Linked DNA regions of Homo sapiens. The protein of the gene in region 2 interacts with the protein of the main gene of each other region in a biochemical or structural test. Each region holds a gene or a part of one and is shown on either strand. Other genes may lie near its edges.

Evidence for each region. The genes of interacting proteins can lie anywhere in the genome.
Region 1: the proteins of CACNA1C (region 2) and KCNE2 form a complex in vitro, tested with the Homo sapiens proteins (one study listed by BioGRID).

Annotation. Positions count from the first base shown.
Region 1 is NC_000021.9:34,366,854-34,370,605, reverse strand, and holds part of KCNE2 (potassium voltage-gated channel subfamily E member 2), read right to left. Parts: intron 436-3,752; exon of another isoform or gene 140-435; 5' UTR 128-139; coding exon 1-127. UniProt on the Homo sapiens protein: Ancillary protein that functions as a regulatory subunit of the voltage-gated potassium (Kv) channel complex composed of pore-forming and potassium-conducting alpha subunits and of regulatory beta subunits.
Region 2 is NC_000012.12:2,055,960-2,059,711, forward strand, and holds part of CACNA1C (voltage-dependent L-type calcium channel subunit alpha-1C), read left to right. Parts: intron 1-3,752. UniProt on the Homo sapiens protein: Pore-forming, alpha-1C subunit of the voltage-gated calcium channel that gives rise to L-type calcium currents. Mediates influx of calcium ions into the cytoplasm, and thereby triggers calcium release from the sarcoplasm.

The DNA of each region.
Region 1 (3,752 bases), on a different chromosome or scaffold from region 2:
CATCAACTTTGGCTTGGAGGGCCTCTTGCTCAGCTGTTGTGTTCTGGCGCCAATTGTCCATATAAGTAATAAAAATCCTTCGGAAGACGTCTTCCAGCGTCTGTGTGAAATTGGATAAAGTAGACATGCTTCCCTCCTGCTGCAATTTAAATAATAAAATAGGCGAACAAGGTTAGGAAAACGGATCTTTTCTGGATTTGGCTATGTAAAGGTGGGAGGGAGATGCCAGGGTATAAGTAATAGTATTTCTTCTTAACCTGGCTGGTGATTTAATGCATATTTTGTTAGTCTTTAAACTGACTGCGTACATTTTATTCACTTTTTTTACAATCCATGATTGTTACACAGTAAAAATTTAAATGGCAGAGAAAATTATATATATACACTTTGATATTTATATATGCATGTAAATAAATGTATGTGTACATATGAAAATGGAGAAAATATTAGAAGTACATAGATCAGAATGTTAACAGTGGGTGGTGTGCTTAAAGATATGTATTTTCTTCTTTATGCTTTTCTCATATTCCAAATTTTCATCAGCAGTCTTGCATTACTTTTGTTTTTTAAAAAATTGGTAACCTTACAAGAGCTAGAATAATGCCACATTCATAACAAGCACTCAACAAACGTCAGTGGAATGGACCAATGACTCATTTATGTTCTCTGTTTTTAGAGAATTGTGGGGCATTATGAGATAACATCAAGAGAAAAGATTGCAGGGGGCATTGACAGACTCTCCAATTTGTTCCATCCCCTATGTCTAAGTGGCACATTGTCCCAAGTATCCTAAAGGGAGGGGTGTGTACATCTATATTTGAAAGAAGCATTTTAGGTAAGTGATGCCAAGAAACAATCTGAGAGATTATTCCTATGTTTCAAATCCATCTCTCCTTTTCATCACCACTGGCACCGCCCAGCCTCCAGCATCTCTCACCTGGATAATACAATGCCAACAATGTAATACAACACAACCCTCCCCAGAGCCATCTCTTTGGGGTTATATGTGCCCCTCTCTGCCTTGAATAGCCATCAATGTGCCCTTTTTTTTTTCTTAAGACGGAATCTTGCTCTGTCGTCCAGGCTGGAGTGGGGTGGCACGATCTCTGCTCACTGAAACCTCCGCCTCCCCAGTTCAAGCAATTCTCATGCCTCAGCCTCCCAAGTAGCTGGGATTACAGGCACATGTCACCACGCCTGGCTAACTTTTGTATTTTTGGTAGAGACGGGGTTTCAACACATTGGCCAGGCTGGTCTCGAACTCCTGACTTCAGGTGATCCACCCGCCTCAGCCTCCCAAAGTGCTGGGATTACATGTGTCAGCCACCGTGCACAGCCAATGTGCCTTTTTGAAGAGGGAAATTATAGTGCAATTTGTTTGCTTTTAAAATGATGCGATGGTTGTTCTTAAAATCAAGTCCTAATTCCTTAACAGTATTTACCCCATTGGCTGAGCAGGCTCCTGACCACCTCCTCAGTTACCCTTTGCTCACTACAGTTCGGTCACACCTGACATCTTCCCTCCCTGTCAGTAAGCTCTCTTTCCTCGGGACATTATCACATCCTATTCTCTCAACCTAGAATGCCTTTGCCTTTCTCTTCCACCTGCTACCTCCTCGTTCTTTAGGTTCCAGCTAGTTGTCACTTCTGAGACTTCCCTGGTTCTACTCTAAATCACTTCCCACCACCACCACCATTTTCCTCCAACAGCATCTCCTTTTTCTTCAAAAGCACACATCACATATGCAGTCACTAAATGTGTGTGTATATATTCATATTACTTTTGTTTAAAAAAAATTGGTAACCTCACACCAGCTAGAATAATGCCATATTTATAACAAGCACTCAACAAATGTCAGTTAAATGGAGCAATGACTCATTTATATTCTGTTTTCAGAGAATTATATACGTGTGCTTTTTTATACATCTCTGTTTTTAGAGAATTGTGGGGCTTTAGACATAACATCAAGGCAAACGATTGCAAGGCAAAAATTTTTTGTTTTTTTGAGACGGAGTCTCGCTCTGTCACCCAGGCTGGAGTGCAGTGGCGCGATCTTGGCTCACTGCAACCTCTGCCTCCCAGGTTCAAGTGATTCTCCTGTCTCAGCCTCCCAAGTAGCTGGGACTACAGGCAACCGCCACTACGCCTGGCTAATGTTTTGTATTTTTAGTAGAGACGGGGTTTCGCCATGTTAGCCAGGATGGTCTCGATCTCGTGACCTCGTGATCCACCTGCCTCGGCCTCCCAAAGTGCTGAGATTACAGGTGTGAGCCACCGCTCCCGGCCAAGATTTTTTAATACATACATACATACATATATATAACATACATATATATAACATACATATATATATATATATATATATATATATATATTGTGTGTGTGTGTGTGTGTGTGTGTGTGTGTGATTATTGGTTTAGGGGCTCATCTTTTCCACTCGGCTGTCATGTCTGCCAACTTTGTCTAGCTCGGTATAGCAGATGTCTAACACATAGAAGGCACTCAATGGACATTTGATGCATGAATTAAAGTGCCAGGTACTATGCTAGGCGATGAAACTGCAGAGGTGACAGGAACTCTGTGAGAGGCTCAGTTGAATGGGAGAGACCAAATCAATGACAATGCAACGTGCAAAGAGTTGCAACAGGTATGGACAAAAAGATAAGGGGGCTCAGAAAATGGAGCTGAACACGGTTCATAGATGGGGCAAGTGGGTTTCAACACAGCTAGAAGGAGCACAGGCAGGAGGTAAACCTGTGACTAGCCACTAGTAAAAGCCCCAGGATCCCAGCAGTGGGTTTGCCTGCTGCCGTTCTAAAGACATGCCCGTCTCTTTAGCATGTGACTTTTCTTTCCTTCATGAAAAGAGAATCAGATCTCCCCATCTGGGAAAGGAATTTCAATCAGCTGAATAATCAAACCTACTAAACAAATAAACTTGCAGGCATTCTCCCACAGAACATCCCTCCCCAGGATTTTCCTCATTGAGAATTACCATCACCAAGATAATATACTCTTCTCTGTCTGATGTTTTAAGTTCTATTATTTAGAGAGCTCTAAGATCTTTGTCTCCCTCTCCTGGCCACACAGGCTAGTGGGTTGGAAGGAAACTTAACAAATAGATAAGATTGCCCCAGGGTATATACCAAGCATATTTCCTAAGCAATGTAACAGAGATGTGCTTTTTCCCCTTTAAAATGATATAGTCTGCTGTGAAAGTTAGCTGAGCTGGCTTTAATCCACTCAAGACTTTGCCACTGGCTCTTTTACCCTTTTATTTTCATTTTATTTTTTATTAACTCTTTTTTAAAATAAAAAAGTAGTGATGAGGTCTCACTATGTTGTTAAACTCCTAGGCTCAAGTGATCCCCCTGCTTCAGCCTCCCAAGGTGCTGGGATTACAGGTTTGAGCCACCATGCCAGACTTTTTTTTTTTTTTTTTTTTGAGATGGGGTCTGGCTCTGTGAGTATAGTCTTTTTCTCTTGTAGGAAGCCCAGCCGGTTGTTACCAATCCATAGTACTTTCCCTGACCTCCCCAGGTCTAGGCAGAGACCCTTTTTCTGCCCCTTCTGCAAATGACCATGTTAGTTTTGTTTTTTTCCTTTTTTTTTTTTTTTTTTTTTTTTTTTGAGATGGAGTCTCTTTTGCCCAGGCTGGAGTGCAGTGGCGCGATCTCGGCTTACTGCAAGCTCTGCCTCCCGGGTTTACGCCATTCTCCTGCCTCAGCCTCCTGAGTAGCTGGGTCTACAG
Region 2 (3,752 bases):
ACTAAAGGGGGCGGGTGAGCCATCATAGGGGTTAGAGTTTCAGGAGACAGAAGAGGAGTCTAGGACTGCCTCAGAAGATCAGTAATGGTGACGAAACAAAGAGTCGAGAACCAAAAAAGTTGTCAGTGGCGGGGGCTGTGCATTCCTCTCTTCCCGACATGCTCTGAGATGTGGAATGCACCAGTCCTTGCTCCCTCACCTTTTCCGTGGAGTGTGTGCATGTGTGAGTGTGTGTGAGTGTGTGTGTGTGTGTGTGTGTGTGTGTGTGTGTGTGTGTGTTGAGGGTCGAACTGGAGACTGGAGGTCAGTGCCTGGGAACAGCCTGGAAGTTCATTGAAGGACCAGCTTCTGACCCTGGGTTTCAGGCTGGGGTGGCACACTCAAGCCTTGCCTCGCCTCTGGTGCCCTGTCTGCTCTGGGCCTGTGCCAGCCTCCCACTTTTCTGGGCCGATTTTCTATTGCAGGCTCCAGCTAGCAAATGAGTGTCTTAATAGTCAACCATTGAACAAATAAAACACCAGAATGTCCCTTATCTGCTAGAGACAAGGCAGAGGGGAGAAACATGTGTTTGGGGAGTGCAAGACACACTGTGCTTTTCTTTTAACTACTTAGCGATTCAGCAGAATAAGAATCACTGTAATAAGGTAATAATAATAATGATCACAGTTAACTTTCTTTACAAATGGTCAGAGAACAACATTGCTCGCACATCAGCTTGAGCAGGTTAAAGAAAGCTGTGGCAATAGCTTTGCTTTTTCTTGATCCTGCATGGAGAAAACTGGAGGAAAGGGGCTATTGGAGTTCATCATATTATTCCTACTATTGGTCAGGCACTTTTTAGTGTTTTAGAATATGACAATATATTAAAAAGAGTCAATTTTTCATTATTTCCATAGAATACACACTAACAGTATTTAAGTGTGTGTGTGTATACATACACACATGGAATAAGGAAAAGCTATTTTAAATAGATCACACGAGAGGCTAATGCCCTTCAGGGACCTGGGGTGTTGAGAGAGAAGTATTGATAATGCAGTCTCCTAAGACTGTTTAAAGATTTCTTCTTCATAGTAAAGGGAGACTTGTTCTTACAGGTAGATGCTGCAGGCACAGTGCTTTGTAAATGAAATGATGAGCCGTTAGCCCCGTGGGACCATCTCTCAGTCTTGGCAATGACCTAGGTCTCTTCAATTTGTTCTTCAAATAAAACTGCTTGAGTTGGGTTCTTCTGTAAGACCTATCAAAGGGATCCAAGGAGCATACTGACTGGAGATTTCGAGGCCCTGCTCATCTTGGGATCCCTGCTTCCTAGTACAGGCCGCTGCTCAGTCCAGGGCCTCGATGCAAGGCTGAACAAATAAATGTCTGCGTGAATGAATGAATGCGACCTGGCCAGACCTGCAGTAGATGTGGCTTCTGCCTCTTCCAGTAGGTGGCGCCACAGGGCTTAGGAGTCAGGAAAGGGGCTTCAGGGTCCGCCTGGTGATGAAAGGTGTAGGGGGAGTTTAGAGCTTGTGACCTGTTGGGGCTGTGCTGCTTCCATCAGGCCCACACCTGCCCCGGCACAGGTAACCCAAAAGACCAGTGTGTCTCCGTGCCGCCGCACACACTGGAGGCCCTCGCGGCATCACTGAGGGACCCAGGTCCCACAGTGACCTCTCCACCCTGTTGTAATGAGAACTCCTTTGGAGCCCACCCAGTCCGTCGCAGGCTCTTCCCACAGACGTCTGTTCCCTTCCAGCACAGACAGCATCCCGCCGAGCCTGGAGGAAGCCTTTTGGGTGAATCGCTGAACTTGGTATGGCCAGATGTTAATTTTCTCCCTGATTTTTCACTGATGGTTTAGTAACCAGAGGGCCCGGTGGTGCCCAAGCCCAGTGGAGCATGGGGTGACCTGAAGCATGGGATCTGGGAACCCAGACCTGTGCAGTCACAGAGCTTGCCAGCCAAAGGCAGGAGGACATTTTCCTAACTTTAATAGGGAAAAGAACACAAAAACAACTGGGTGCACTTCACAGTTGATTTCCGTTTATGAGTCTGCCTGGATCTCCTGCTGGGTAATGGCAGAAAAGCTCAGGAGACCCAGGTTAGGAAGTAACTGAGATTTGTTCTAATTTCCAGTGATGTTTTCCAGCGCCTGGCATTTTCTTTTCTATTCCTTTCTTCACTCGGTTTTCTTAGTTGTGTGGCAAGTTCCATGAGGTCTGAGAAGCCCTTGGCACTGTGCTAAGAAGGGGTGAGTGGCTGGCAGCACTTTCTTCCTTTTACAGTAATTCCTCCCGCCTGATACAGCAGCTGTTTGTTCTGTAGGAGGTACAGGTCAGCCGGCGTCATCTCACCTCTTCCTTGCTGGGACCCTGAAATCAGTGCTGAGCATTCAGATTTAGCAGACAATTTTATTTTCCAATATGGACTACAGAAAGCTGATAGACTGTTTGCGAAACACCTGGAGACTTAACAACAAGCCTAATTAACAAAATAATCACACTGATTTCATCTGTTTCTAGATTCCATCCTCACAGTTGCCTAGGTTAATGTTGGGCACTGTGGAGGAGAACAGAAGATTGGTTTTAAAAAAAAAGGCATGGGGAATTGTTTTGCAACATATCAGGTGCCAAATATTTAGGGACAGAAGTGCTAAACATTCTGATAATGAAATAACACTCTGAGCCATGGCTGTCATTATTAAAATAATTTAGTAAACACCTGTTTACATGTACCTCAAGGTTAGATACCACGTAAAACAAGTAAAAGTGACAGGATCCCTCGGGGAAAATGGAATGGAATGTTTTTCGGTGTCATTTCGAAGCCGGGTGTGTAGACTTAAACTGAACCCACTGCAGAAAAAGCAAAATGGAAGGCTGAAATAATGAATGCCATCATTTGAACTGAAACCTGGGCACTCCAGAAGAGCTCTTCTCTGTGTTTTAATTCCTAGATGGGGTGCTTATTTGCTCAAGACCAGGCTTTCCTGAGCCTGTGTAGACACGGGCCTGGAGCAGGTAGACAGACCCTCTTGGTTTCTATAGTTGAGGCACCCCTGGAGGCAGCTGTTTATCATGGCAGGAAGGGAAGTGGATGCATTCTCTACTGCCCCCTTTCCCCTGCCGAATTCAGGCAGGACCCGCGCAGGTCCCTGGAGAACCTTGCTTCAGTGCTAGCTGTGTGTACCGTGTGGGCAGGACCCCAGCTGGGAGATGGGGAGCCCAGGATGACCCCACAGAAAAGCAGAGCTGTGAGATGGCTGGAGCCTCCGAGAGCTGAGATGCAGAAGGTGAGGGGAAGCCAGAGGAGCCCCAACTCCCTAGGGTGTCTGGGAGGGTTTGGGGAACAAGGTCATCAGGGTAGTCAGTTACTCCTTGTGGAGCTGAACTGAATTTAAGTTGGGATTGTAGGGACTGTAGGAGAGAAGTTTGGGCCTGGAGCTCAGGAGTCGGACCGAGGTTGAAAATAGACCCTTCCTTCCCTGGAAGCCGAGGGAACTAGAGGAAGGGTTCATCTGGCTGAAGCAGAGGGTGAGGAAAGCGGGGGTTAACTGGCAAGAAACCCAAACCTCTCAGCCCCTCCCCTCCCCAAAACCCCACAGAACAGTTCTCTGCAAAACACCTTCACTTTAAAATGGGCTTCTTGTGCTATACCCTGTGTGTATAGGGGGCAAGGGGCTAGGCTCTGGTTCGTTAAAGGGTTTGTCAAACATAGAATAAATGTAATGTCTCTTTGGGAATTTACTTTCTAGGATCAGGACATTTTAT